Linked DNA regions of Homo sapiens. The protein of the gene in region 5 purifies or fractionates together with the protein of the main gene of each other region. This does not show direct contact. Each region holds a gene or a part of one and is shown on either strand. Other genes may lie near its edges.

Region 1 (4,454 bases), on a different chromosome or scaffold from region 5:
GCCTTTTATGGGGAAGCCATAAAGGTTTGTAAGTAGTTAACTGATGACAAGTTCTTTGTTGAGAATTGGTGGGAATGTGAAGGGTGGATTTTGAGCAGTGGTTCTAAACTGTTTCACTGCTTCTCATCATTTATTACCCAAAGAGGATTTTTAGCCCAAAGATAGGGGGATATAGGAGGGATGAGGGGGAGCAGGTGTAGTACTTGTATCAGAATCTCATTTTGAGGTTGTAGTTTGACTTCTCTAGAGACACACTCGTATTCACACTCTCTGTCACACAGACACACTCAAAATGCCATTTAATGTGATTCATAAGGAGGAATATCTTGACATCCTGACACTGGTTTAAGAGGCCATTGTAGGGTTTGTGTAAAGGGAGAAAGGAGCCCGAACCAAACTCGGCAATGATGTAGAAGAGGTGAGATTTGAGAGATAACCTGAATAATAGTTTGGATGTGGTGGAGTAAAGAAAGGCAGTCAAAAACGACAGGTTTTTAATATTGGATATCTTGTTTAGTTTTTGTTTTCTGTTTGAGACAGCATCTCACTCTGTCACCCAGGCTGGCGTGTGCAGTGGCATGTTCAAGCTCACTGTGGCCTTGACCTGTCATGCTCAGTGTCCCGAGTAGCTGGAACTACAGGCATGTACCACCACACCCGGCTAATTTTTATATTCTTGGTAGGGACAGGATTTGCCAAGTTGCTCAGGCTGGTCTTCAACTACTGGGATCAGGCCTTGGCCTCCCATCTTGGCCTCTGAAAGTGCTGGAATTACAGCTGTGATTCCACACCCAGCCCAGTATTAAATATCTTATAACAACTAATATGGTTAGGCTTTGTGTCCCCACTCAAATCTCATCTTGAATTGTAATCCCCATAAGCTAATCAAGGGAGAGACCAGGTGGAGGTAATTGAATCATGGGGGCGGTTCCCCCATTCTGTTCTCCTGATAGTGAGTTCGTTCTCATGAGATCCTTTGGTTTTATAAGGGGCTCTTCCCTGCTATTCACTCGGCACGGCTCCTTCCTGACACCTTAAGAAGAAGGTGCCTTGCTTCCCCTTCACCTTCCACCATGAATGTAAGTTTCCTGAGGCCTTCCCAGCCATGCTGAACTGTAAGTCAATTAAACCTCTTTCCTTTATAAATTACCCAGTCCCGGGCAATTCATTATAGCATTATGAAAATTGACTAATGCAACAACTTTATGAGGGAGGCAGATAACAGATATTGTCACCGAGTCTTCTCACATTGATTTATTTGCCCAAGATCTTGTAGCTATCAAGTGCCAGAGGAGCAATTGAAGCCTGGTCTTTCCCATTTCTGGTTCCTTGTTGATGCCATGTTGTTGCCATTAAGAGAGATTTAAGAAAAACAAGTTTCAGAAGATAAATTGGATTTCAGAGGAGGAGAAATGTACATACATTGTTATGGGATTTCAGATGAAGCTTCTCTGTCAGCTACTGAAAATGAGAAGCTGGTTTTTAGGAATATATTGAGAAACAGGATTGCAAATTTTGGAGACACTGGCACTTAGGTTGAAGCCAGAGACTGGATAGGATCACCCAGGAAGAGAAGAGGAGAAGGTAAAAATGGTAAAGGTGGAATTCTGGGAGGCACTAGCCCTTAAATGCTAGTGCATTAAGGGGCTGGTGAAAAGGGGTCAAAGAAGTAAAGGATAGGAGGAGTTTTAAGGCGTTTCTAGGAAACTTCCCCTGCTTCTAAATCAGACTCTGGTACCTATTCATTGGTTTAAAAATGATGAAACCCGGCAGGCATGGTGGCTCACGCCTGTAATCCCAGCACTTTGGGAGGCTGAGGTGGGTGGATCACCTGAGGTCAGGAGTTCGAGACCAGCTTGACCAACATGGAGAAACCCCATCTCTACTAAAAATAAAAAAATTAGGCGTGGTGATGCATTTCTGTAATCCCAGCTTCTCAGGAGGCTGAGGCAGGAGAATCGCTTCAACCCAGGAGGCAGAGGTTGCGGTGAGCCGAGATCGCGCCGTTGCATTCCAGCCTGGGCAACAAGAGTGAGACTCTATCTCAAAAAAAAAAAAAAAAAAAAACCCTCATGCTAATATTTATTGCCCCTGGAACTGGCTTCACCCTGAACCTTGAAACATATCTTGGTCTTCTCCCCTGTATGAATTCTCCATTCTAGCTAGATAATTCTTTATTGTATCCAAACACAAGGTTAATCCCTTCATGTACAACTTTGCTTGTGTATACTTCCTACGTGGGTTTCAGTATCATCAGATAAATCTGGGTTTGAATTTCAGCTCTGCCTGTCTGTGGGCTTTGGAATGTTAGTTAATCCATGGCCTCACTCTTCTCAGCTGAAAGCAGTGATGACTAATTAGCGATCTTACCGCATTTTGCAAATAGGTTTAATCTATCTGAAAATGCCTGCCTAGCGTGGGGTGCTTCTTAAAGATCAGCCGCCTTTCTTCTATCTAGATGCAGGAGCTAGGGTTCAGCACAGGGACCACTGCCCTAGCCATTTTTCCCCCGCCTCTTTACAGTTCTATGTCTTAACAATTACGATTAGCTCTTATAACAGCTGATGCACATAATGTAAAGCTAGAGAAAACCTTAGAAAACATTTTACAGGTGATGAAACAGAAGGGAGGAGATAGGAAACATCGTCTTTGCCTTAGAGGCACTTATGGTCTAGAAGGGAGAACTGTGCCCTCTTTGCCAGCCCCCCAACCCATTTTGACATTCAGCATCTGTTGTCTTGACCTATTTTCTAGTTGTTTCATCTGTGTTTTCTCCAAAATCACAGTCATCTAATATACATTTTTTACTGAAGTGTGAGCTTCTGCTTGCATGTCAGATGAGCATAATTTTGTCTTCTGATTCTTTAACTGTGTCTCCCTTTATTTCCCCTTGACAATACAGCCCCTTAGGTAATATGCTTTTTACATTTTGGGATGCTATTGAGTTGAGAAAGTGCAGAGAAAGATTCTTATTCTGGTTAAAGTATTATAAAACAGAACAAGAAAGTACATGTAAAGTACTTGTTTGGCATCCGGCATGTAGTAGATGTTCAGTGTTTTTTTGAGACAGGGTCTTGCTCTCTCACCCAGGCTGAAGAGCAGTGGTGCCATCTTGGTTCACTGCAACCTCTGCCTCCCAGGCTCAAGTGATCCTCCTGCCTCAGCTTCCTGAGTAGCTGGGGCTACAGGTGTGCACCACCACACCCAGGTAATTTTTGTATTTTTTGTAGAGACGGGGTCTTGCTATATTGCTCAGGCTGGTCTGGAACTCCTAGGCTCAAGTGATCCACCCGCCTTGGCCTCCCAAAGTGCTGGGGTTACAAGTGTGAGCCACCGTGCTCAGCCTGGTTTTTTTTAATTATAAAAAGTTATCAAGTAAACTGTGAACCAGTCTGAAAAACTGGTTATTTTCCCCCGGTATTCCTGGTATGATTAGGTGAGGGATGGAAAATGTTCCATGATAGTGATATTTTGTAACTCAAAATTAGTTCTGTTGGGTTTTGCCTTGTGTTACAAAATATACTGAACAGCTTTCCCCATTCTCATTTTAAGGAGTCAGACTGTTTAAAATCTCAGCAGTACTAGATATGGAGAGTGGGGTGTTTATAGTTTTGTTTTGTTTTGTTTTGTTTTTGAGATGGAGTCTTGCTCTGTTGCCCAGGCTGGAGTACCATGGCACGATCTCAGCTCACTGCAACCTCCACCTCCCGGGTTCAAGCGATTCTCCTGCCTCAGCCTCCCAAGTAGCTGGGATTACAGGTGTCCACCACCACACCCAGCTAATTTTTGTGTTTTCATTAGAGATGGAGTTTCACCATCTTGGCCAGGCTGGTCTCAAACTCCTGACCTCATGATCCACCTGCCTCGGTCTCCCAAAGTGCTGGGATTACAGGCTTGAGGGTGTTTATAGTTTTTGAAGTAGTTATTTTCAAAGACAGGTTTCCCTCCATTTCTGAACCTTTACTCTTCAGACTCGGGACCCAAATCCATTTGGATACAATTTTTTTAGACTGGGCTGTCTGGAGGAAATGGTATCCCTCCTTACTCAAGCCCTCACTGTCTGAAACTTAGGAACCTACTGGCGTCTGAGAGCTACAGATACTTGTATTCCTGTTGATTCTACCAATCTAATGTTGCATTCATTAGAAATAAAGGGCACCATGTCTGAGGTAAAATTGAGACCAGTTTGCAAGGTGTGTTTGGTTTCTTAACATTGAAGGTTGTGAAAGGAAAGATTTTAAACATATCTTTAAGCAACTGCCACGTGCATGTCCAGAATGGCCCCTTCTGTGTGTGTCATGGAGAAGTTCTGGCTTATATTTTCAGTGTTTCTTTACTAGAAATCATCCCTCTTTTAAAGAGAAGGGCCAAATACAGTAGCTAGATGTTTTATGCACTGAAAGGCATAGTAAATCTTAGGTTATGCTTCTCCAGTTGACCAGAGTCATTATGTG
Region 2 (3,753 bases), on a different chromosome or scaffold from region 5:
CTTTGTAGCAGAACCAAAACCTCCCAACTCCCAGTTGACATGGTAGCCACCTTCTCTGGTGAGTGAAGGGATTCCACATCCCCAGCAGTGCAGTTGGTGAGAAGGGGCAGTCAGTCTTCAAGGATTTGCTCCGGTGTGGCTTCATTCAATGCTGCCCACCTCTGGTGCAGCCTCAGCTTTGCCTCTGCTCTTTGCAATGTAGCCTAGAGGTCTTTTTTCTCCTTAACAGGTTTTATTCCCTTTGTTCCTCCCATCCTTCATGTCCTTGGCATTGCTTTCTTCAAAGGAAGCCTCAAAGAACTGAACCTTGAGACTGTTTCTCCTTTTGAGATATTGTTTCCACATTCATTTTATATTAAGTTGTCTAGGAGGGTTAGTTCTCATTTAAATGAATGTTGTCCTTGTCAAGGTTAACATTCCCACTGGCAACATAGCAAGACTCCATCTCTACAAAAAATAAAAAAATTAGCCAGGTGTAGTGGCATGCACCTGTAGTCCCAGCTACTTGGGAGGCTGAGATGGGAGGATCGCTTGAGCCCGGGAGGCTGAGCCTACAATGAACCATGGTCATGTCACTGCATTCCAGTCTGGGCGACAGAGTAAGACTCTATCTCAAAAAAAAAAAAAAAAAATTCCTCCTGTTAGGTGGGGACTGAAGAAAGAAATAGAAACTTAACTGAACAAGGAAGTAGAAGTGTTTGCCCAACAAACTGACGTGAGACAGGGAAGACTGCTAAAAAGGAAGGAAGGAAGGATTTTCTTGTTCTTTACATTCTTCATAAATCTCCGGAAACAGAGTAATATAAATGGTTGAGGGCATGTCTGGGGGAGTTTCCTGGTATAGCCTTTCACGCTTTGGGGTTGAGGGCTTGTTGCTTGAGTGTCTTTATGTTTGTTTGAAGAAAACATCTGGAACAGATGCTTTTCATGAAATGTCATTGAGTCAGCTCTGTTGGTCTGGGGCACTGTGTACTGTGCAGGTCTTGATCTAGTTCCTTATTCCTCAGTATGTCTGATAGTACTAACTTGAGATTGTAGTCCAAGAGAGATGAAAACTATGGCTACGTTAGCAGTGAATGATATTCACGGATCTTGCCGGGTGGCTCATTCCTGTAATCTCAGCACTTTGGGAGGGTGAGGTGGGTGGATCACCTGAGGTCAGGAGTTTGAGACGAGCCTGGCCAACATGGCACAACCCTGTCTCTACTAAAAATACAAAAATTAGCCAGGCATGGTGCAGGGGATCGGGGCGCCTGTAGTCCCAACTACACGGGGGGCTGAGGCCGGGGAATCGCTTGAACCCAAGAGGCAGAGGTTGCAGTGAGCTGAGATCACGCCACTACACACCAGCCTGGGGGATAGAGTGAGACCCTGTTTCCAAAGACAAAAAAGAGAAGAAAAGAATCACGGATCTTGTACCTCTTATACCTTTAAAAAGTCAGATTTAATAGTCATTTGAGTTAGGAAAAAACTTCTCTGCATTTTAGCATCTATCTCTGCCAATTTCCACTTTTTAGAGATAAGGTTTTAGAAAAGCTGCTACCTAGCGAGTGGGGGTGAGGGTGCCATTCTAAGAGCTCTGACCTCGTCCTTCAGTGCATGAGGAGCAGATGGAGCCTGCGCGCCTCTTGGTGCACCCTTTGAGCTTCGCATCCTGTTTCTTCTTTCATGGTTGGTCCAGGACCAGTTACAGAAGTGGATCCGCGGTAATGTGAGTGCATGTGCGAACTCTGTTTTCATATTTGACGAGATGGATAAATTGCACCCCGGGATCATTGACGCAATCAAGCCGTTTCTAGACTACTACGAGCAGGTTGACGGAGTGTCTTACCGCAAAGCCATCTTCATCTTTCTCAGGTCAGCGGGAGGCGGTTTTTTGGGGCACACAAGCCCTTCATTCTCTCAATGATAAAATGAGGTCCTGAGGACCATCAGCACTTTGTTTACCAGGACGAAAGTGCCTGCTTGGCACAAGGCACTTACCTACTGCTTTACTTTTCCTTTGCCAGTCTCAGCATGGCACACAGTGTGGGTTGTGGAAATGAACTAAAGAAATAATCACTGGGCCAGGCGCGGTGGCTCACACCTGTAATCCCAGCACTTTGGGAGGCCATGGCGGGCGGATCACCAGGAGATCGAGACCATCCTGGCTAACATGGTGAAACCCTGTCTCTACTAAAAATACAAAAATTAGCCGGGCGTGGTGGCGGGCGCCTGTAGTCCCATCTACTCGGGAGACTGAGGCAAGAGAATGGCGTGAACCCGGGAGGCGGAGCTTGCAGTGAGCCGGGATCACACCACTGCACTCCAGCCTGGGTGACAGAGTGAGACTCTGTCTCAAAAAAAAAAAAAAAAGAAATAATCACTGATAGCAGGCAATTTTAGCTGGGCATCGTGGCATGTGCCTGGAGTCCCAGCTCCTGGGGAAGTCGAGGCAGGAGGATTGGTTGAGCCCAGGAGTTCAAGGTTTTATTGAGCTATGATCATACCACTGCACTCCTGCCTGGGTGACAATCAAGACCCCGACCCTAAAAATGAAACAGAAATGAAAACAGTTAATTTTATTAACTGTGCATGTTGGTTTTTAGGGTTATAAAGGGCCATAGCATTATCCCAGCTAGTTGTGAATAAACACTTTAAGTTCCATGAGAGCACACTTTTTTGTCTAGTAGCACTCAGTAAATATTCCTTGATGAAAAATAGATCTTCGGCCGGGTGTGGTGGCTCACACCTGTAATCCTAGCACTTTGGGAGGCCAAGGTGGGCAGATCACTTGAGGTCAGGATTTCAAGACCAGGCTGGCCAACATGGTGAAACCCCGTGTCTACTAAAAATACAAAAATTAGAAGGGGCGTCGTGGCAGGCGCCTGTAATCCCAGCTACTCAGGAGGTTGAGGCAGAAGAATCACTTGAACCCGGAAGGTGGAGGTTGCAGTGAGCTGATATTGCGCCACTGCACTCCAGCCTGCGTGACAGAGTGTCTCAAAAGGAAAAATAGACTTAGAGCAGATTCATTTCTTGGTAAGACACAGAAGTCTTTTTTTTTTTTTTTTTTTTTTTGAGACCGAGTTTCATTTTTGTTGCCCAGGCTGGAGTGCAATGGCATGATCTCGGCTCGCTGCAACCTCCACCTCCCGGATTCAAACGATTCTCCCACCTCAGCCTCCCATGTAGCTGGGATTACAGGCATGCACCACCATTAGCCTGGCTAATTTTTGTGTTTTTAGTAGAGATGGGGTTACTCTATGTTGGTCAGGCTGGCCTTGAACTCCCGACCTCAGGTGATCTACCTGCCTCGGCCTCCCAAAGTGCTGGGATTACAGGCATGAGCCACCACACCCAGCAGACACAGAAGTCTTAATATGTGATTTTAATCTTTATTTCTCTGGCAAACTCAGCAATGCAGGCGGGGACCTTATAACTAAGACGGCTCTTGACTTTTGGCGGGCCGGAAGAAAGAGGGAAGACATTCAGCTGAAGGACCTGGAACCTGTACTGTCTGTCGGAGTCTTCAATAATAAACACAGTGAGTCCACCAGGGTAAAGGAGCCCCTTAACTGTCCAGCAGTGAGCCGTCTGCTCTTTCATTGAGTGTTTCACAAAGCCACAGGATCCCACTGGATTTCCTCACTTTGCTAAAGTCAGGAATTTTCTTAGGGCATACTGTGCTAGAAACCAGTGAGTGAGTGTCCAGCTGAGTCCTGCATGGGCTTGTTGCACACTGACAAGAGACTCTCTCAAGGGGTACGGACA
Region 3 (4,454 bases), on a different chromosome or scaffold from region 5:
AGGTTTACTTTGTAGGAACAGGAAAGTTCATTTCTTCACACAAGATCACAAACCAAGTAATCCGCTGGAGAAAGAACGAATTCAGAATGCAGGTGGCTCTGTAATGATTCAGCGTGTGAATGGCTCTCTGGCTGTATCGAGGGCCCTTGGGGATTTTGATTACAAATGTGTCCATGGAAAAGGTCCTACTGAGCAGCTTGTCTCACCAGAGCCTGAAGTCCATGATATTGAAAGATCTGAAGAAGATGATCAGTTCATTATCCTTGCATGTGATGGTATCTGGGATGTTATGGGAAATGAAGAGCTCTGTGATTTTGTAAGATCCAGACTTGAAGTCACTGATGACCTTGAGAAAGTTTGCAATGAAGTAGTCGACACCTGTTTGTATAAGGTAGCTAGACTTTTTTTAAAAACATAAAATGATTTTATGCCATATTAATCACTACTCTAGTATTTAATCATCTTAGAATCTGTAATTCTGAAACCAGTTTTTGGCACAACTGTAGGATACTGTTCACCAATTATGAAAATATATCATAGGACCACTATGTAGAAATAAATTACCCAATTACCATCTCTGCAAGAGTTATAAGCTGAATGTTTAGTCTTACTACTTGAGCTTTGTAATAATGTGGAAGATTATCAAAGGTAAAAAGATTTTATCAGAGTGCATGTTTTGAAAGAAAGAGGGTGGGGAGGGTTAGGCCTCAGTGTCTATAAATGAAAAGCATTTTAGAGTTTTAATATTTGACCATGTGATATCTCAGTACATTTATGATATCCTAATCCTTTGAAACTAAGGTTTAATGGTCTGTAGCACTTGAAAGAGGAATGTAGTGATCATTAGACGTGATGTAATAGAAATAGCCTTGTACATGGAGTCAGAAGAACTTGCTCTGAGACTGTGTATGGTTTTAGGTAAGCTATTTAAACTCTAATCAGTTTTTTTCATCATAAAAAGGATAAGACATTATTATCTTGTCTCATGGCGTTGTCAGGAGGATCAAATGGGATAATATACACAGGTGAGCTAGCTCAGCCCCTTTATTTTACAGATGAGGAAGCTGAAGCCAGAGAAGGTTCTACAAACTTAAGAGTCAGACAGACCTGAGACCAAGGCTTACCTCTATTAGTTTTGTACTCTACATTCCTGAACGAATTGTTCAACCTCTCTCAGCTTTAAAATGGAGATAATAGTATCTTATAAGACTGTTGCCGGGCGCGGTGGCTCACGCCTGTAATCCCAGCACTTTGGGAGGCCGAGGTGGGCGGATCACGAGGTCAGGAGATCGAGACCATCCTGGCTAACACAGTGAAACCCCGTCTCTACTAAAAAACACAAAAAATTAGCCGGGTGTGGTGGCGGGCGCCTGTAGTCCCAGCTACGCGGGAGGCTGAGGCAGGAGAATGGCGTGAACCCGGGAGGCGGAGCTTGCAGTGAGCCGAGATCGCGCCACTGCACTCCAGCCTGGGCGACAGAGCGAGACTCCGTCTCAAAAAAAAAAAAAAAGACTGTTGAGGAATTAATGAGCGTATGTATATATATATATATGTGTGTGTGTATATATATATATACATATATATATATATAATGCCTAGTTTAGCATATAATACATGCTACACCCTTTCCTACAGATATTATAAATGACGTGTACAGGGTTTTATACATTGCTAACAGCATTAAGACTAGAAAATCAAGGCCCTTGACTTGGGTTCAGTGTTCTTTCTGCCACACTCTGTTCTGTTTTGTCAATAATGCTTATTAACTTATTCTTTGATGTTTTTTTAAACAAATGTTGACTTTTTAAAATTCTTCTGAGGGTATATATTTGATACTCAAATATTTAATTATAGCATTTGAATACTTAGATGTCTTTAAAAATGAATGTAGTTCCTAAAAGTTGTCAGTTTTTAAAATTAATACAAGTTAAAAGCTGGTTTATAAACCTTAGGTAGTTTTACCTCTTATTTCATATTTCTACTTATGAAGCGAATGTATTAGCCCCACAATTTATAATTTATTTTAAAGGTAATTTTATCAGGTACATATAACTACAGGTCAAATCCTATTGTAAACAATGCCACTAAAATTTTCTGTCATGTTGTATGGAAGGAGTGTGTGTACACATGTATATTTGTATTAGGTATCACTTCAAATTAAGTCACCAGTAAATGTTTAGAAATAGTATTGTTTTATAGAATTATAAAAAATTATTATTACAGTGAGATTAACCTGTAATGTTTCTCTCCTGTCTTTTGGAGTATTGGTTATACTGTATTCTCTCTATACTGTTCGGGGGAGGGGGAGTCATTGCACACACACACGCACGCATGCGTGCACATATGTATTTTTTTCTCCCTGAAAGTAACATTTTCACTAGAACAAGTATAACTGTAATTGGCACAGCTGTAAAGGTTCTCAAGGCTTTGAAGAGCAAAAAGAAAACTAAAATATTCTCAAATTTTTTTCTTCCCAGGGAAGTCGAGACAACATGAGTGTGATTTTGATCTGTTTTCCAAATGCACCCAAAGTATCGCCAGAAGCAGTGAAGAAGGAGGCAGAGTTGGACAAGTACCTGGAATGCAGAGTAGAAGGTGGATCATTTAACAAAAAATAAGTAGCTTTATTAAAGAAAAATCTTCAACACAATCAAACTTTAACATTTTAGCTTTTAGATTTTTATGTGTCTTTGACAGCTAGTGTCTAGTGTATGAAAGTGGAAAAGGACATTTCTGTAGTAGCTGTTAAGATGTATGCAGTTGTCCTATCACAGTTATATTAGAAATAACAACTAGTGTGGAAAGTAACCCACATTCTGTTCAGGATACTTTTGTTTTAAAAGGCTAAAATGTTTGTGTGCTTTAAAATTCTTAATGAATTCACTGGCATGAGTAATTTTATGCCGGGAAAATCTGATTTGTGGTCTATTTAATTACAAAGAGATTGTGATGGTGATAATTTGAATACCATCTTTCTATGAAAAGCTGTGTATATTAATTTTAATCTCTAGGGCCTTTTTTCAATAACTTGAAAATCACAGCCTCATCATTAGCAACTTTATATACACAGCTTTAAAAAATTTGCTTTAAACTGTTTCAGAGCTTCTTCCCTAAGCCATAAACTGTCTCACCTAAACAAGATAGACCTCAATAAAAGACATAATATTTCTCCACCTGGCAGAAAAGTAACTGCCAAGTAAGATTAAGAAATAAGTTGAGCATTTCTGGAGTATATTTCTCATAATTCTGCAGAGACTTCCAGTTTATTGCATATATGCAGTAAAGTGTATATATTATGCAGTTTCTCTAAGTGGAAAAACTTGACATGACTTTAATAGTGTTAAAACATGAAAATGCTGGTGAGCTGAGGTAGAAAAAAAACAAGAAAAAAATTTTAAAAATAGCGTTAAAATGCATTTTAGGCTCCTAATGTCGTTAATTTGCACGTTAAAGACCTCTAATCGCATGCAAGCATTGACCTACCACACCTACATCCCACTGTGCCTGCATTATTGAAATTACTACTCACTTTAATTTTTTTTCCCCTTTTTACTGTTTGATACCAATCATAATCAGTCTGATACTAGAATCATGATTGGTTTTGTTCTTTAGTACTGTCTAGAGCTACTATTTTGTTTTTATTGCTGTCCGCCACTTGATAGTCATACATCTAGTATGTGTTTGTACTATTTAGTATTGCATTCATTGGACGTACTATTCAACGAATTTGTCTCCTTACTGTTACCAAGGGTCTTGGAATTTTTATATTTTAAATTAATCATTCAATATAAGTTATTTATAGGTATAGTACAATTTTAAAATATTTAGAATGCTACAATCATTGGTTCAAACTATTGATTCATGGGAAAATTTAAATTCATAAGAATAATATGTATAGGGATAAGTTGATATTTAATGTATTGGCACTTTAACTTGGGCAGACATGTTTTCTTATTGGTTTAAAGAAGTAATAAGTATTTTAATATTTTTACTATGAAATGGGATCCAATTTTAGAAATGAATTGCTACTTTTCTCTTTAGTGTGTACACTTTAAGTTTTAGATGGAATTATGAAATATTCACTTTACGTTATTTTGTTACAATAATAAGTTTTATATTTCTTATTATCAAGCAAGAGTTGCCACCTGGACAGAGTTTACATTGATACTCAATATTTTTGATATGTTAAAGTGTTATTATACTTGTACCATTCAATTGGAGATTGTCATAAATTAAATATGGTATTTTTTACTCAGATTTGATGAGACTGCAACTAGAGAATAAATATTACATTAAAATTGCTGCTATTTTAAAACATAGAATGTAACTGTTTGTATTGTAAAAGTTGTGTGTCCTCAGTGAAAAATACTGCCTTCAGCTTCCAAAGCAGGCACCTGAATGCCTTTTTCTTTTCTCTCTCTCTTCTTTCTTTAAATACATGCCTTCACTAGATT
Region 4 (4,454 bases), on a different chromosome or scaffold from region 5:
TTATTTTAAGCTCTATATTAAAAGTGATGGTCCTCTCTTTTAAAGGAATTCAGAGCATTTGTTATTAAGGCCGGAAGCATAGTGGGAAGGACATTTGTGGGACAGGTTATAAGGTTAACTGCAAAGACCACTCGTGTTCAGAATATAAGCTTCCAGCAGGGCATGGTGGTTCATGCCTGTAATCCCAGTGCTTTGGGAGGCCAAAGTGGGAGGATCACTTGAGGCCAGGAGCTAGATACCAGCCTGGGCAACATAGTGAAACCCCATGTCTACAAAAAATTTTAAAAATTAGCTGGGTGCAATGGCATACACCTGTAGTCAATGCTAGCTACTTGGGAGGCTGAGGTGGGAGGATCACTTGAGCCCAGGAGTTTAAGGCTGCAGGGAGCTATGATTGCACCATGCTCTGCACAACAGAGTGAGATCCTGTCTCTAAAAAAAAGAAAAAATGAATTCCAGCTTCTTCTGCCTGGGCCCAGGTCTAGAAATATAAAAGTTACCCATTCCAGTTCCCTCAACATTACAGAAAAGTCAGGGGCGTTGTCTGCAAAGCTGGGCAAGTCAAGCTGTGACCAGGTGTTGGCTGCCTTGGCCTAAGACATCTGGGTTGTGTAAACTCATTTCTTTGTTTGTATATTTTCTTGCTTGGGGTTTGTTTTGTTCTATTTTCCCTTTCATTTCCTAGAAAAGCATCTTCTGGAAAGTTCTAGCCCTTTCCCAGCTACATAAAGAGGGAAGGGCCCTGGCCGCTGCACGCATCACCCACGCAGGAGGCCCCTAGAGGCTAGGGCTTACTCTGCAGGGGCAGCTCCCCAGAAACTGGGGACCTGGCTGGAGGGGTTGAGTGACCACAGGTGTCAATTGCTTTTTGTCTTCACACACAGAAAAGAGGTGGGACTAATAAATGGGCTGCTATTCCCCAGAAATCAAAGTTCACCCCCTCCTCGCTGCTGAAACACAGCTGGATTAGGGCCTTCTGTCACTTCTTCATCTCTGTCATCTTTGAGCCTTTTTGGCTGGGTCTGTCTCTGGCAAGGGTCAAAAATCTTCCTCCTCTACAGATTTTTTGGGAGGTGTTCAACCTGATTGACATCATTAGGAAGGAAGGCATGCCAGGTCAGGGATGCACAGCCTTTGCCATTTCCAAACTTACAGCTGCCTCTTTTGTGCTGTCATTGACGTCTGGTGACTCATCGCGTCTGTCCCATCTACTCCTGCTAATTGACATCCTCATTAGCAGCCACGCTGCCCCCATCTCAGAGCAGCCATCAGAATGAGCCCTGTCTCCATCTGCCTCTTCCCAGCCTTGCCAGTTATTGACATCTGCACTGAGCCTTTGAGCTTTGCCTAGTCTTTGGTGGACCTCGGCCATGATGGGCCAGTCTGGGTATAAACACCATGAAATAGAACCATCATGACGACAGATTTGTACAGACCAGGCTCTAGTGCTGGCTCTTGCTAACCAGCTGGGAGATCTTGGTCCAAGCTCCTTAGCCTTGGAGCCTCCATTTCTCCATCTGTAAAATGGAGATGATAATGCCAACCCTGCCCACACTGGGTTGTGGTGAGGAACAAATGGGCTGTGTGGAAGAAGCCCTGTACCCCACAGAGCACTCATAGACACAGATGACTGATCCCCTCTCTTCCCTACAGCTGCCCTGCACCACATTCCTTCCACCGGCTAGATGGGGGTGCTCCCAAGGTTCCGCTTTCCTGTTAACACATTGGAGCAAGGTTTTGTCTTATTACAGTCTACCTTCCAGTGACCACATCTCTGTCCATAGCTTCAACAAAACGTAGCTCCATGGAGCCCAAGTCCTTCCCCTAAGTGCCAGTGCCACGTGTCAGATGGCTTGCTTCACAGCTCCATCTGGATTTTTTCCCTTGTGTCTCAAATGCATGTCTGAAAATTCAGTATCTTTCCATCTGGCAGACTGTGAACTTTGCATTAAGTCCTTTCCCCAGGGGCCAGGCTCTTTCCCCACCCCCCACCTCCACCTCTCTTTACTGAGGCATCATCAGGCATCTTCCTCATGCACCCTTCATCCTCTCCCTGCCCACCAGCCCTGTCCAGTGGGCTATGCTAGCTGGTGGCCAAAGGCTGCTGACTTGTCTCCTGACCACAGCATTCCCTCATAGCTCGTCCTTTCTGCTTCGAGAGATACAACTGGTTTGAGGGTTGCTTTCTTACTTAGAAACCCTCGGGAGCTCTCCGTCACTTCCTGAATACAGTCCCGATTTCTTAGGTATTTCAAGCCTTTCCCAAAGTGATCCTGGCCAACTCACTCAGCCTTTTCTTTCATGTCTTCTCCTTTCTGTGTATCCTGCCTTCCAGTTAGATGGAAATGTGCTCCATTTCTTGGGCCACATCTTTCTTTGCCTTGCCTCCAGTTCCCCATCCCGGGACGTCTGTTGAAATCTTACTCTCCTCTGAGTGCAAGCTCACATGCAGCCCACGCTAAGAAGCTGCCGTGATGGTTCCTGGCAGCAGGGCTGAACACACAGAAGAGCATGTCACGCCAGCTGAGTGGCCCCAAGCATGCAGATGGCAGTGGGGAGCAGGGAGGCTGTGTTCTTATCTTCTCCACAGGCCGAGACCAGGTGTGTCACCTCATTTGACTTCACAAATTCTAACTCCAGAAAGTGTTTGTATGTAGTTTTTCAAAAATTTTTGCCTCATTAACTAATAGATGCCCCCAAAATGGCACAAAAGTGCTACAGAAACTTGGAGAATTAAGAGCTCACCCCAAGCGAAGGTGGTTTGCAAAGGCTGCCCAGAGACGTGAGGTTTGATTTGCCTTAAGGGATGGGTGAGTCTGGAGGGTCGCCAGGAGGCGGGGGATGGGCAGCCTCAGTAAGGGGACTGGAAGGCACCAAGTGGGGGCCAGGAGAGAACAGCGAGTGTTCCAGAAGTGTGGGCAGAAATAGAGCACCTCCTAGTCCTAGTAACAAAAATAGCTAATACATTTTGTGTTATTGATTATCTTGTATTATTTCATTGAATCTTCTCAACAACCACATGAGGTGGCTGCAGATGAGGAAAGTGAGACGCAGAGACAACTGTGACTCATTCAAGGAAATGCGCGACCCCATGGGGAGTTGGGACTCAAACCCAGGCATCCTGAGTCCATGCTTCCAGCCACTGCATGTTGCTGCTGCACTCAGCAAGATGTCTGAGAAGGCAGACAGTCCAACTTCCTTCCTGTGCAGAAATCTCAGACTGTCTTATTCCTGGGAGAATAAAAAATCTAGACCCTAACAGGTGTACAATGAAGAGTTTTGTAAGAAAGAAAGATTCAAAAATGAAATAGGTAACATATGGGCATTGAATGTGGAGCTGGATTTTAGCCTATATTCAATGGAATTGGAAGGTTTTGTGCAGGGAAGTGATGTAATGAGCGAGGAGGACGTGTAAGATTAATCTGTGGTGAATGTGCACTGACACTGGGGAGATCAATTAGGCAGAAAAAAAAAGGACTTTTAAAGAAGACAAATATTACTGGAACAGGCCGCTGGAGCAGTCTGGGAAATGAGCAGAATGACTTTTATAGAGCGTTCCAGGGCTTCAAGTAAATTCGAATTCAAATTTATTCTTCCTGTATTATTTGCTGCATCCTAAAATGGGCTAGGAAAAAAAAAACAGTGAATTTAGTGAGCATTTATTGTGTCCTTGCTGTATGTGAGGCCTTGTGCTAGGGACTTAAAACAATTGGAAAGATATCCAGGTGCCCCTAGGAATGGAGAGGCCAGAGGCACAGTGGCTCCCATCACCAGGAAGACTTGGTAGGAAGATGACAGTTACTGAGCTCCAGTTTTGTGCTAAAACCTCTCATCTCATTTAGTTCTCTAAAGAGCCCTTTGATGGTCACATCTTCCAGCAAGGGACCTCAGTGAGGGTGAGTGACTTGCCCAAGGTCACATGACTCATAAGTGGAAGCTGTCTTTGCAATCAATTTATTGTCCACTGAAACGGTTATTTATTTTCCTCTCTCTCTGTGTCCTTATGTATTATTCAGTAAAGTTCAGCTTCCTGGGTTTCTTCTCTCTGCTTCTGTAACTACTGCTGGCTTTTTTTACTTACTTTTCCCTCGCTTCTATGCCACTCTGCTTTGTGGAACAACCTTTGTGTGTCGGGCCATTCTAGCTGTGTTCTCTGGTAAGAACAGATTCAAAGTCCTGGCTGGGCATGCTGGCTCATGCCTGTAATTCCAGTGCTTTGGGAGGTTGAAGTGGGAGGATCGCTTGAGCCCAGGAGTTGGAAGCCAGCCTGGGCAACACAGCAAGACCTCATCTCTACCAAAAAGAAAAATATACTAGCCGGACATACTGCCACATGTCTGTGGTCCCAGCTAATCAGGAGGCTGACAGCGGAGGATTGCTTGAGCCCAGGAGTTAGAGGGTGCAGTGAGCTATGATCATGCCACTGCAGAGGGAGTTTTAGGGGATTCCTTATA
Region 5 (4,454 bases):
GAAATACTATTTAGAAATGAAAAATGAGTTAGTTCATTGTATCCTAATGAAAAGTTGATCAAGATATATTTCATTGACTTTAAGATACTATTGATTTTATGTATCAATGAGAAAGAAAAACCATCCAGTTAAACTATGCCATACCATTAATTAAAAGATATATCTGTAGATCAAAGGGCATTTTTTAAAAAGTATGTCTTAGAATTTGATGAAAATATTAAAACGTATGTATCCACTTTTTTAAAAGTATATTTTTAGTATAGGCTGAAAACAAAGCTGAGAGAATATCTGTCTTATTTACCATAATATTTCTATGTTCAATGTTTTGCACATAGTAGATACTTAACAGATAGATATTCATGAATTTTTAAATTAAGCATTTCTAGAATGGCCCCTTTTTTTAAACAGCTAGCACATGTTTGTATTCAGAAAAAGTTGAAAATAAATAAATGTAAATCGATACTTGTATTTATCATCAAAGAGTAACTCATTTTCTCAGGGCAGATTTGAAAATTTACCTTGTTATAATTGTAATGTCATTTTTTAGTCATCCCATTGTGTCATTTTACAGTTATCCTTAAATACCACCTCAAAACCTGAAGTAGCATGTTTTACTTCATAGCTACTTTGCAATGTCCATAAATCTGCATAGATAGTACATACCATTTCTTTATGGTATGGTATGTGGTATATGATATGGACTGCCTGGATTTGTATCTCAGCCCAACTACTTTTAGATATATAATTTTGGAAAAATTACCAATTTTGGTTCCCCCCCCCCCTTTTTTTTTTTTGAGACAGAGTCTCGCTCTGTCGCCCAGGCAGGAGTGCAGTGGTGTGATCTCAGCTCACTGCAAGCTCCGCCTCCCAGGTTCACGCCCTTCTTCTGCCTCAGCCTCCCGAGTAGCTGGGACTACAGGCGCCCACCACCACGCCTGGCTAATTTTTTATATATTTAGTAGAGACGGGGTTTCACCGTGTTAGCCAGGATGGTCTCGATCTCCTGACCTCATGATCCACCTGCCTTGGCCTCCCAAAGTGCTAGGATTACAGGCATGAGCCACCGCATCCAGCTGATTTTCCCTTATTTATAAAATACGAACAGTAATAGCATCTACCACATAAGAATTAAGCAAAATTGGCTGGGCATGGTGGCTCATGCCTGTAATCCCAGCACTTTGGGAGGGCGAGGCAGGCAGAGCATTTGAGGTCAGGAATTTGAGACCAGCCTGGCCAACATGGTGAAACCCTGGTCAGGAGTTTGAGACCAGCCTGGCCAACATGGGGAAACCCTGTCTCTACTAAAAAGACAAAAAATTTGGTCAGGCATGGTGGTGCACACCTGTAATCCCAAGTACTTGGGAAGGTGAGGCAGGAGAATATCTTGAACCTGGGAAGCGGAGGTTGCAGTGAGCTGAGATTGTGCCACTGCATTCCAGCCTGGGTGACAGAGTCAGACCCTGTCTCAAAAAAAAAAAAAAAAAAAGAATTAAACAAAATTATACTTGATATATATGACTATATGTAGTTTTTATTTTGATGGTACTGATCCTAAACTAACTCCTTATTGTTGCCCAATTCCTAAACATTTTGAAGTTTAGAAATGAGGGGGAAAGAAATACACACACACTTTATATATATATATATATATATATATGTATATATATGTATATATATAGTATATGTATGTTTTTTATATATATATACTTTATATATTTATATGCTTGGAATTGATGAGAGAATGTTTTTTGTCTGTTGTTTGTTTTTAGTATCCACAGTAAACAAGCAAAATGTCTGTGCAACATCTTTTTTGTTGTTATTTTCAAGTATTCTATGACCTTATCCCTGTTTTCTGTTTCAGGTCAAAACTTCACAGCTCATGATAAGCAACCTTCAGTGCTAAGTAAGTAGTTGGTTGTCTGCTCTTTTTTCAGCCAATCAATTCTTTTCTCTTTTTTTTTTTTTTTTTTTTTGAGACGATGTCTTGCTCTGTCGCCCAGGCTGGAGTGCAATCTGGGCTCATTGCAAGCTCCACCTCCTGGGTTCACGCGATTCTCCTGCCTCCGCCTCCCAAGTAGCTGGGACTACAGGCGCCCGCCACCACGCCCGGCTAATTTTTTGTATTTTTAGTAGAGACGGTGTTTCACTGTGTTAGCCAGGATGGTCTTGATCTCCTGACCTCATGATCCACCTGCCTCGGCCTCCCAAAGTGCTGGAATTACAGGTGTGAGCCACCGCACCCAGCCTCAGTCAATCAATTCTAACCTTGCCTTATTCTCCCAACAAAAGTTGTAATAAGATTTTAAGTCATTTTACCCCTCTTTACCTTTTTAATTCACCACGGATTGGTACTACCTATAATAATTACTCTGTGATATGGAAATGTGTTCAGGGCTATTTTACCACAAGTAATTTGTATTATGTGATAATATATTTATTTGCTACCTGCTTTGCTGTAGGAAGTGGTTCATCCTCACTGATACGATCCTTTGAAATTATCTTTTACTTATAAAACTATTGCTTTTATTGTTTTCTTCCCCTACTTTATTTTGTCTTTCTGATAGATTAATTTTATAACACTGGAATATGGTATAAACTTTCAAAGTATGGGAAATTATCTTTTGATATATGTATTTGCTTCAGGCTCAGGATATCAAAAAACTCCCCAGGAATGGGCCCCACAAACTGCAAGAATAAGGACCAGGATGCAAAGTAAGTAGATAAATCTCTGTTATTGAAATAATCTTGTGTATTTGCTATGTTTTTCTTGACAAAAATATTTAGTTCTTCAGATAAACATTTAGGTTGTTTGTGATTTCACTAATAAAGTACAGCTATGATTACTAGTTTAGTAATTTCTTGGACTGGCAGCACATGGGCTGGGTGTAGAATGTAAATAGTGGCGTGAGAAAACCAGAGATTGGCCAGGTGCGGTGGCTCACGCCTGTAATCCCAGCACTTTGGGAGGCCGAGGTGGGTGGATCACGAGGTCAGGAGATCGAGACCATCCTGGCTAACACGGTGAAACCTCGTCTCTACTAAAAATATTTAAAAAAGAAAAATTAGCTGGGCGTGGCGGCGGGAGGCTACTCGGGAGGCTGAAGCAGGAGAATGGTGTGAACCCAGGAGGCGGAGCTTGCAGTGAGCCAAGATTGCACCACTGCACTCCAGCCTGGGCGACAGAGCGAGACTCCATCTGAAAAAAAGAAAAAAAAAGAGAAAACCAGAGATTGATGGATTTTAACAAGCTGTCAGTTATAGCAGCAATACAGTCTGTATACAATAATGAAATTCTACTCTTTTGACAATACTTATTTTTTGCTTTTAGCAGATTTTGGAACAGCTTTGTATACTCATAATTTTACATAATAAAGGCTGAAATGCACAAGTTATATTTTCATGTTTAGGGTTTTTTTTCTGTTTTTTGTTTTGTTTTGTTTTGTTTTGTTTTGTTTTGTTTTGTTTTTGAGATGGAGTCTTGCTGTGTTGCCCAGGCTGGAGTACAGTGGTGCAACCTCAGTTCACTGCAACCTCTGCCTCCCGGGTTCAAGCAATTCTCCTGCCTCAGCCTCCCAAGTAGCCAGGACTACAGGCGCGTACCACCACACCCAGCTAATTTTTGTATTGTTACACGCCTGGCTAATTTTTATATTTTTAGTAGAGACAGGGTTTCACCATATTGGTCAGGCTGGTCTTGAACTCCTGACCTCATGATCTGCCTGCCTTGGCCTCCCTGAATGCTGGGATTACAGGCTTGAGCCACTGCGCCCAGCCTTTCTGGGTTTTTGGGGGTGTTTTGTTTTGTTTTGGGTTTTTTTTGAGATGAAGTCTCCCTCTGTCGCCCAGGTTGGAGTGCAGTGGCACAATCTCAGCTCACTGCAGCCTCCGCCTCCCACATTCAGGTCATTCTTGTGCCTTAGCCTCCTAAGTAGCTGGGACTTGCATGCATGCGCCACCATGCCCAGCTAATATTTGTACTTTTAGTAGAGACGGGGTTTCGCCATGTTGGCCAGGTTGGTCTTGAACTGCTGACCTCAAGTGATCCGCCTGCTTCAGCCTCCCAAAGTGTTGGGATTACAGGCATGAGCCACCACACCCAGCCTCATGTTTAGGTTTTGGATGGATTAAATGTCACAGAATTTAAGGAATACTATAAATTGATGTGATAAAACCATCGTACTTTGAACTCACTTTCTATAATTTCTATGGAAATGCGTCCACGTTAAATCTCGACCATATTTTTTTAAAGTCCATGCATATTCTCTGCCTTAAGTGACCTTTAACCTCCCTACTTTACTCATCTAACCACAATAGGTCTTGAGGTCATCAGGTATTCTCTTACTTTTATTTAGGTAATGTAAAAATCCACATCTTATATCTCTTGCTCATGGGATGATTAACTGTAATTGGACCAAATGACATGCGTGGCTCTGCTTTTCCATCAGTAAAGTAGG
Region 6 (4,454 bases), on a different chromosome or scaffold from region 5:
GATTCTGTCATACAGGAGGTAAATTAGAAAAGCTAGATGCATTTAGGGAAAACAGGAAAAACAAAGTAGGTGCAGTGGAAGATTGCTCAGCAGAGAGTTGTCCTGTAAGAACTCATACTGGAATGTGAGGCACCAGCCCCATGTTCGCTGGGAAAATAACACGCTGAGCACCCACCATGTAAGAGACACCACCTGGCAGTGTCACAGCGTCACAGCATCTCAGCTATGCTCACCTGCTTATGAATTGATCTGTGTGAGCCTCTCCAATCACATAGATGATAAGTTCTATAAATTCCAGATATATAGACAACCTCACTACATCATGCTTTATTAAATACAAAATGGAAGCCAGTATCAAGCAGATCTATACTGAGCCTATCTAAGGGAATGCAGTTACTAGAGAAAGTGATCTCTTTATAAATGATGCCACTTAGCCATTTGCATTTGGGGGGGTTATAGATTCACTGCTTTCTTCAACACACTGATGGGAGCTTTGAGTTGTCATCTGCCTGGTCAAGATTACATAGCTGTACCCCTCTCTACAATTTTGGGCTTAGGGTTACAAGGATAACCACATGACAATGTACCTCCTTTCAAATATTGCAAAATAACCTGCAGCTGCCACAACTTAAGGAAAGCAACAGTTAAAGAGTGTTTTCACGAGTCTAGAGATTGTTTTTACTATTCTCTCTGCAACCTCAACCAAATATAGATGGGTAATTTTTCAGCCAAATCATATCATGCTAAGAATGTTAGGCTCTCTTTCAGAAAGAGACAAGATGGGGCCTGGCTGGTCTGAGGATGAGCAGGCCAGTCTCACATAAAGACACTAAAAGAAGTAACATTTTAATAACCCCTTTAGCCACATTCACAAAATACCGTTACATGTATTAAAATTCTAATCCTCCAAGATAGCACAGTGGTTCAGCTGATTTGTGGTGACTCCTTGAAGACATGTGGGACCACCACAGAAAAGCACCAGGGCTGATCTATAAACATTTTGTCAAACTGCACTCACTTGCTACCAAAGGGTGGCAGGGGTGGTACAAAACCATCTCAATTCTATCAGGGAAATTAACAAACACAATGGCAGGCTGGATTTTTAAAAAAGATGAATTCATCTGTCAAACATTTTGGGTTATTATTATATTCCAGCTATGCGACAAAACCTGCTCCAACTCAGAACTCAGGGCTTTTGGCTGGAGGGATCCGTAGTCTGGTGGGGTCTGTGTTATTCAGCTTTCACCTTATAGGTTCTACTGTCTCTGTATTGGTTCCGTAAGTACTGCTGTTGGGCTGAATTTCAACGCTGCATAAATTTAACACTGCATAAATTAACATAGGAAATTCCCTAAAGAATGAGGGAGAAGCTTTGCAAGTTATAAAAAATTGCTTCCTTCATTTAAGGAACTGCTAACACTTAATCTTAATGTGGAGAAAGAAATTCCTTGCTTTTGCTCATCATTCACGTATCTGGGCCTGCAGAAACTCCTTTTATAAACAGCTGGGTAAATCACCAAAAGAAGAGAGTGGTTCAGGCATGAACACTGCTCTTTTCCCAAGTCTTTTTCTCATTCCAGCCACTGAAGAACAACCGGCAGCTCACAAATAAGAACAGCGCCCCTGGAGACCTGAGATTGCGTGTCATTTCCGCTTATTAAAACCTTACTAACCATCCTAACCGCTTGCCTCAAATATTTCTGTTAAGCAGTAATCTCATCAACTGATTTTTGAATCACAGCTTTCTTGGAGGGGTTGACTATCATAGCAGCATGCCAGCTACTGGTTGTGTTGATAATTTAAGAGAAATGATGGCAACCCTGGGTTGCTAACCAATCATCATGAAGAGAAGAAAAGCGGTTTGTTTTTTAAGATACCACTCAGGGTGCTTGTCTCTGGATGAACTTACCCAGCGCCTCACCAAGACTTCAGGCCTCATAAAGCTGGGTAGAGAAGCAGGAAGGTCTACCTAACCAAGGAAAAATGAAACTGGAGATGTGTCCTGGCACAGACCTGGTCTTAAGACACGAGTTTTACTAAGGAGGGTCAGGAAAAGTGGGGAGTGGGAGACACTGGAGCTTCGATGAGGAAAAAGCCAGAATGAGAAGACTGTGCATAAGACAGGAAGGAAAAGTCATCTATAAATTGAATTTATGGGAAGCACAAAGCGAGTTTTGCCTGTGCACCAAGTACTGTTCTTCACTACCTGGAAATCTGATTAGATCACTTATTTTGTTTTCAATATGTGTCTATTCCCCTGCAGCAAGAGCTGTTTGTTCTTTGTTCCTCCTGCTTTGGAGGAAATAGAAGTTAACTTTTTTCTGCCTGGATCTTGTTTTATATCTTCTATGACAAATGCTCTGTATAATATTCAAATTAAGTTACAAGTAATTAACTGTTTATACAGCTGGCTGCAATAACAGACAAAACACTAACATACTGCAGTTCTAATTGAAGGATGACCATGGGAAAAGAAATACCTATTAAGAAAAATGAAAATCTATTACCATGGTAGTATTTCTTCTATTAAACTCAGATTTAAAAAAAGAGAAAATGTCACGAAGCAACGATTACTCTCAGAAAGTGGTTTAGAAAAGGATTCCTATGATGGAAGAGGTTGGGATAGGAAATTTAAAGTTTGGAATTTTGTTTGCTTTGATCTGACTCTAAATTCAAAGGGCTGCCCTACCAAAAAAATGGGAAATCTATTATGAAATACCCACGTGTCAGTCACCCTGTGACCAGCATCCCAGCTGGGCAATTAATAAATGTCATCAAGCGATAATGATAAAGCAGCTTTCGAACACAATAAAAACATGCTCCTGGGGGGCTTCCCAGAAAGTTAACCTTCTTGATTATCTTCGTGCTCTCTGAAAGTGGCCACCGTGTACATCGGGGGGACCCTGATGTGGGTCGGGGAGAGAAGCAGGGTGACTGGGAGCAGTAGAACCAAGGGAGGGTCTGGTCACAGCTGTGAGCTAGCCAGGGGACTGGGGTCACCTACTGTTTCAATGGGAGCAAGAGAAGAGGGGAAGGGGATCTCTTTTCAAGGCTTCCATCTGATTCCCACATCATCTTCCAATTTGTTCTTAAGGCTAAAGATTCATTCCTAGGGTTGGTCTGATGAGACCTCTGCCAGGTAGCTTTGACCTATAGGGAGTGATAGCTCCCCATCTCCCAAAAGATGGAAAACAAGGACTTGGCAGGACCTCTGAAAGGTCAAAGACCTTTAATGCAATTCAGGCCAATGGGCTCTAAGAGCAATGGTTTTCAAACTTTGGGTACAGAGTCTCCTGGGAAATTTGGTCAAAGTTCAGATGCCCAGGCCTCACCCCAGACCTTCTGAATCAGAATCTCCAGGGATGGGGATTGGGTGGGTACATTTTAAGCAAACCCCTCAGGGGATTCTGATGCTCACCCACATCTGAGATCTGACACGACAGGAAAAATACCCTGGTTTTGAATTTAAGAGTGGGCTGTTTGGTCTGGGTTCTGCCCTTCTACAGATCATTTAAATTCTCTGGAAGCTAATTTTGCACATGAAAAAAATGAGGTTGGGTTATATGATCTCTAGGGTCCTTTTAGCTCCAACAGCCTATAAGTCTATTAAATCATTTGCATCTAATGTAGAGTTCATCTGAAAACAATGATAACATACAGCTTGCTCTGGCAATAGGTTTTTCTTTCAAGAACCTTGATTTTTAAGCAAAAGCTACTACTATGTTTTCAGGACCCCTTCATACTCAAAATATGTCACAGACTTAGGAGCAGAATCCTGGTCTAATATAAATACAGTTCACCGGGGAGATGAAATTGTCCTTCAGAAGGCGGACAGAAATTGTGCCAGGGCAAATTCCTCCATATGCACTGATCTTGAGGCTTTGACTTAGGAAGCCAACCAAATACTGGAGATGTCAATGATATTTTAGAAACGAGACAACGGGGTGCACTAGCCTTAAGTTGGAGAGCTGTCACATTAGGATCTAGCCTCATTTACTGGGTCCTGACCCCAAGTTCCTCACTGTGGCCAGGTTCCTTTCTGATCTCTCCAAAGAGATCAGCAGGAAGCATGTAGGTCTGAGGTGGGGCTGTCTCATTTACAAGACGTCCTTATTGTGAGCTGAACTAACTGTTTGCGTGGCTACTGTCCCACTGCCTGCTTACTGACTGAAACTTCTGCTATGGTTTGGGGGACCCCTGACAGACTCATCATCTAACTGCAGGTCCCACACTGACCTCTGTCCCTTGGGCATCTCCTGGGGTTGGTCCTTGCCTCTGGTCCCAGTTTGCCCTTGGTTGTCAGGCTCCAGGTTCCTGGCTTCCTGCTCTGTTTTCAGAGTCACACTTCCCATGGTACTTCACAGGATGAAAGGCATCACGATCCAGGGGAGGCTTACGGCTGGCTGGAGGGAGCCTGCATTTTCTAATGGCCTTTATTAGCCGGCAGGGTACAT
Region 7 (4,454 bases), on a different chromosome or scaffold from region 5:
AAGAAAGATAAGAAGGAAGAAGTCAGTATCATAAACTGAGTAATTATCCACGGAGGAATCAAAATCAAGATAATTAGGCTCAAAGACAAGGCAGACAGATTCTAAATTGCTGACAACTGATAACGTTCTCCTTGGGTATGCATTGAAACGGAGATTCATCCTAATACGACCAATGCCCACCAATGCAAAGCAACAGTAAAGGTAGCCACCAATGTCACCTCTCAGATATGAACATCTGAAATACTTTTAAAAGGCCTTGCAAATGTATCAGGCTTGCCTATTTAAAAAGTTATTTGGCAAGAAAATATACTAAAAATGGTTTTGAGAGTAAAAATAGATCATGCCATACCTATTACTTTTGCCACAGAAAAGAACGATTCCCTTGCAGTCTATTTCTCAATGAGCACAAGACCGGTTTACTGTCCCAATAGTCGCCATACTCACTGTTAATCAGGAGCTCCAGGATACTCTCCGACGCACTGGTAACAGTCAACTCCAGACAGTGTGCAAAGCTGGACAGTGCCTTGCTGCGGACAGTAGGCGCCTTGTCTAAGCAACGATCAAACATAATTTCCTGCACCAGGAACTTATGCTTTAAGAACTTCTGATGCTCCAAGGAGAGGGTGTTATCCACCTCTCTTTCAGGCAGTTCTAACAGAGCTAAGACAACATCAAGAGTAAAAACCCGGTGTGGGATCTGGTAAAGCAAGATCATAAGAATTGCCATCAGATAGGAGTAAGAACCAAAGAACCCTCCTCATTCAGACCTAGAAAAAGAGACCCTTTTAAAAAGAGTTTAAAAAGGACCCAAGGTTTTATGCAGAGCTATCTCCTACCTTGGAACTTCGGGAGTATTTGTAAAGCCAGGCAATGAACATAGCGTATTCCCCACAAGGAAGTTTACTGAGCAGCTGGACTAGGGACTGGGCTGCAAAAGTACGATACTCTGATTTATCTACCACCTGAAAAGCAAAAAGAGAAGTTGACCAACCAATATCCACCCGCAGGATGGCTGAAACATATTCTGTAATATAAGTTGAAAGTCAGTGAGTACAACTAGTTCAATGACCTTTAAATGTTACGTAAATGACTAATAAATTTTAGGTTTTAGAACACTTCAAAACTAATCTAAAGGAAATCTATAAACCATCTCTCCAGAAAAATGCACATACAAATTTAGTATACAATTTCAGAGAGTTTTTAGATCCCCAGGTTTCATAAGGTTCAAATTAAGAATCATTTGTCTAAATGGTTATAAAAATGTAGAGATCATCATGGAAATTTGAACACTGGATGTTTGATAATATTAAGGAATTACCGTGAAAGGATATGATGGAATTTGCTTCAAAACACAATCCAGTATACACATGTTGGGGGATGTGGGGTAGGGGTTTAAGTGACACAAAACTGTGGAACTCGGTGATGGGTATGTGGTGGTTCACCAGCCTATTTTCCCTGTTTCTGTGTGTATGTTCAACATTTTTCCAAAACAAAGTTTTTTTGTTTTTTTGTTTTTTATAGAACACTTTTGTCTAGGGGACCATCTAGTGAACATTAAATAAAACCACTTTAAGTAACAATGCACACTCATTCCCAAGAACAAATACCCACACTCACACACACACACACACATTTATCTTCACACACGATATACTTCCATGTTATTAATATTACTAAGGCAAACAGTACCTTGGCACAGATGTGCTGCAGTAAGATACGGACGACTGGGAATATACTCTCCTTTAATTCATCCACAAGGGCGCTTTGTAAAAGAAAAACACATCTACTGTTCACAATACAGTCAGCGACTGTCCCCAAAAACCACTACTCCTATATTTAGAAATCCTAGTTATTAAAACACTCTACCTCACGCTATAAGAGTGGTTTCAGTAGAATGAAGAGTGAAGACATAAAATGTCATCGTAGAAAACTGTGAAGTAGTTCCCGTGCAGTTTTGAGAGCTGCTGCAGAGTAGCTAAGTCATCAGGTAAGAACAAAAATGTAATCTTCATACAATTCTTTTGACTACTTACTAAATTTCATATGAAGATGTAAAATATATCCTTTGGGGATAAATATAAAAATTGACTAAGACACAGTACCACCTCATGGTAGCTCAGTGAAATGCATTAGTAACATTACTTCTCCAAACTTTAACCCAATAAGAAATTTCTTTTTTTTTTTTTTGTAGATGGAGTTTTGCTCTTGTCGCTCAGGCTGGAGCGCAATGGTGTGATCTCGGCTCACTGCAACTTCCCCCACCGGGTTCAAGAGTTTCTCCTGCCTCAGCCTCCCGAGTAGCTGGGATTACAGGTGCCCGCCACCACGCCTAGTTTCTGTATTTTTTAGTAGAGACAGGGTTTCACCATGTTGGCCAGGCTCGTCTTCAACTCCTGACCTCAGGTGATCCGCCCGCCTCGGCCTCCCAAAGTGCTGGGATTACAGGCATGTGCCACCGCGCCCCGCCTCAAGAAGAAATTTCTACAATGCCCAGACTTGATCCATTTTTAGTGATGTTTATCTGTAACATTACATGAAGACTATTGCGACTGGCATATGAGAAACTCTCATGGAAAAAACGAAACGATCGTGTTTTCACTTAAAACATTTTAGTTACTTAATGTTTTAAAAAGTCCTTAGTGAGAGACATTTGCTCAGTCACAAGATGACGTCATACACACCCCATGTCTCCAACTACCCTGCACACTGTGCACACCCAAGGCATGCACACACTTGCACATGCACACCATGTCTCGGCACCACCTCCACACTGCACGCCAAAAATCAGTGAAGGAGGGAAGGAAAAGCCAACAACGCAGCAAACATGTCCTTGCCAGTGAAACTAAGGCATGAGAGTTTTTAAGTGAAGCTGAGTGACCCATGAGAGGAAAAGTAGTCTAACACTTATTGCTACGGAGGTAAAAAGCAACTCAATCCTTTCCTTCAAGTCATTTCTACAGAGGGAAAGGAATAGAAAAGTGCAAAGAAACAAGAAGAAAGTGGCAAAGAACAAAAGCAAAGAGCTGCAAAGTAGAGAGCAACAGAAAAGGGAAAGAGGTGAACTGGCTGCAATGAAGCAGACAAGGGAAAGGAGGAGAGGCCACCATCCTCTCTCTGAGGCTGACCCACATATTGAGCGCAAACAAGCTGGAGGCTGGCGCTGGCCCGTGTTCTGCAGATTCCTATCTCTTTAACAGTGCCCCAGCTGGGAGCCTACCAACAGAGACCCAGACACATAAAGCACATTAGCTACGAAGTGCTTGGTTTTCACCCCCAAAACCACCATCAGGCCAGAAATTTTAAGTCTACATGTATCAGAAATCTTAGTGCAGGGCCCAGAGTACTGAGGGAGACTGACAGGGTGAAAATTCACGATTTGTGTGCTTCACCTGATAAACTGGACCGCCTGGTTTCTACAGTTGATGACTTGGGAGGTAACAGCAAGGGGGGCACGATGGGATCCTTCACCAACTTCTAACATTAATATTACACTGAGCATTTGATGGAAAACACAACTGATGACCTAGAAGAGAAAAGAAAATTCAATTTAAGATCGGATGGAGAACACAAGGGTCTCAGACATAGTGATGCAGACTGTAGTAAACCATTTCAAGCCATCTGAAGGTAGGTCAGGCTGGCATAATTGCTGGCTGAACACTAGGGATATATTTCTTAAACAATGAGCAGGGATACAATAAATGCACAATGTAAACAGTGTGAAAGAATGGCTGACAGATGATATGTCTGATAAAAACAATACCTAGTTTCTCTCCCCACCCTTTGCATATCATAACCCAGAATTTAGGACAAATAGGGAATTAACTGTCATTTACATAGGGCAAAGAATGCTACTAATGTTCCCTTATTCAAAAGGGGAAAGAACGATACTTTACACCTGCTTTTTGCCTCCAGTTTACAAAGCACTTTCCAACATATTATCTCATATAACATAGTCACTAATTAATTTATTCATCCAATAAATAAAACATTTACTGAAAACCAAGTAAGTGGTAGGTATTGCATTAAGCACTTTCATCTACATAGCTAGATTTTACTATATATATATAAAATATACATTTAATTTTAAACCTTACAACAATTCCATAATGTAAGCAGGACATGTATAATTTCCACTTCACAGATAATTAAAAAAAGCTCCAAAGGTGAGCTGTCCAAGATCAAATAATTAAAAATAAGGCTAAAAACCAACATTGCCTGACATCAAGTCAGTACTTTCACAATTAAAAAAAAATACCGACTGGGCGCAGTGGCTCACGCCTGTAATTCCAGCACTTTGGGAAACCAAGGAGGGTGGATCACGAGGTCAAGAGATCAAGACCATCCTGGCCAACATGGTGAAACCCCATCTCTAAAAATACAAAAATTAGCTGGGCATGGTGGCGCGCACCTGTAGTCCCAGCCACTAGGGGGTGCTGAGGCAGGAGAATCACTTG

What was found.
Region 1: the proteins of TOR1AIP1 (region 5) and ADPGK purify together in Homo sapiens (affinity purification with mass spectrometry; one large-scale study listed by BioGRID and IntAct). This does not show direct contact.
Region 2: the proteins of TOR1AIP1 (region 5) and TOR1B purify together in Homo sapiens (co-immunoprecipitation; one study listed by IntAct). This does not show direct contact.
Region 3: the proteins of TOR1AIP1 (region 5) and PPM1A purify together in Homo sapiens (affinity purification with mass spectrometry; one large-scale study listed by BioGRID and IntAct). This does not show direct contact.
Region 4: the proteins of TOR1AIP1 (region 5) and PDIA5 purify together in Homo sapiens (affinity purification with mass spectrometry; one large-scale study listed by BioGRID and IntAct). This does not show direct contact.
Region 6: the proteins of TOR1AIP1 (region 5) and CHCHD3 purify together in Homo sapiens (affinity purification with mass spectrometry; one large-scale study listed by BioGRID and IntAct). This does not show direct contact.
Region 7: the proteins of TOR1AIP1 (region 5) and NCAPD3 purify together in Homo sapiens (co-immunoprecipitation; one large-scale study listed by IntAct). This does not show direct contact.

What each region holds. Positions count from the first base shown.
Region 1 is NC_000015.10:72,776,858-72,781,311, reverse strand, and holds part of ADPGK (ADP-dependent glucokinase isoform 4 precursor), read left to right. Parts: intron 1-1,097; exon of another isoform or gene 1,098-1,115; intron 1,116-4,454. UniProt on the Homo sapiens protein: Catalyzes the phosphorylation of D-glucose to D-glucose 6-phosphate using ADP as the phosphate donor. GDP and CDP can replace ADP, but with reduced efficiency.
Region 2 is NC_000009.12:129,805,507-129,809,259, forward strand, and holds part of TOR1B (torsin-1B isoform 1 precursor), read left to right. Parts: intron 1-1,681; coding exon 1,682-1,857; intron 1,858-3,398; coding exon 3,399-3,526; exon of another isoform or gene 3,527-3,562; intron 3,563-3,753. UniProt on the Homo sapiens protein: May serve as a molecular chaperone assisting in the proper folding of secreted and/or membrane proteins. Plays a role in non-neural cells nuclear envelope and endoplasmic reticulum integrity. May have a redundant function with TOR1A in non-neural tissues.
Region 3 is NC_000014.9:60,283,147-60,287,600, forward strand, and holds part of PPM1A (protein phosphatase 1A), read left to right. Parts: coding exon 1-391; intron 392-2,477; coding exon 2,478-2,595; coding exon of another isoform or gene 2,596-2,618; exon of another isoform or gene 2,619-4,454. UniProt on the Homo sapiens protein: Enzyme with a broad specificity. Negatively regulates TGF-beta signaling through dephosphorylating SMAD2 and SMAD3, resulting in their dissociation from SMAD4, nuclear export of the SMADs and termination of the TGF-beta-mediated signaling.
Region 4 is NC_000003.12:123,118,815-123,123,268, forward strand, and holds part of PDIA5 (protein disulfide-isomerase A5 precursor), read left to right. Parts: intron 1-4,454.
Region 5 is NC_000001.11:179,905,962-179,910,415, forward strand, and holds part of TOR1AIP1 (torsin-1A-interacting protein 1), read left to right. Parts: intron 1-1,861; coding exon 1,862-1,903; intron 1,904-2,643; coding exon 2,644-2,712; intron 2,713-4,454. UniProt on the Homo sapiens protein: Required for nuclear membrane integrity. Induces TOR1A and TOR1B ATPase activity and is required for their location on the nuclear membrane. Binds to A- and B-type lamins. Possible role in membrane attachment and assembly of the nuclear lamina.
Region 6 is NC_000007.14:132,787,857-132,792,310, forward strand, and holds part of CHCHD3 (MICOS complex subunit MIC19), read right to left. Parts: intron 1-4,454. UniProt on the Homo sapiens protein: Component of the MICOS complex, a large protein complex of the mitochondrial inner membrane that plays crucial roles in the maintenance of crista junctions, inner membrane architecture, and formation of contact sites to the outer membrane.
Region 7 is NC_000011.10:134,203,210-134,207,663, forward strand, and holds part of NCAPD3 (condensin-2 complex subunit D3), read right to left. Parts: intron 3,524-4,454; coding exon 3,390-3,523; intron 1,763-3,389; coding exon 1,690-1,762; intron 963-1,689; coding exon 837-962; intron 698-836; coding exon 445-697; intron 1-444.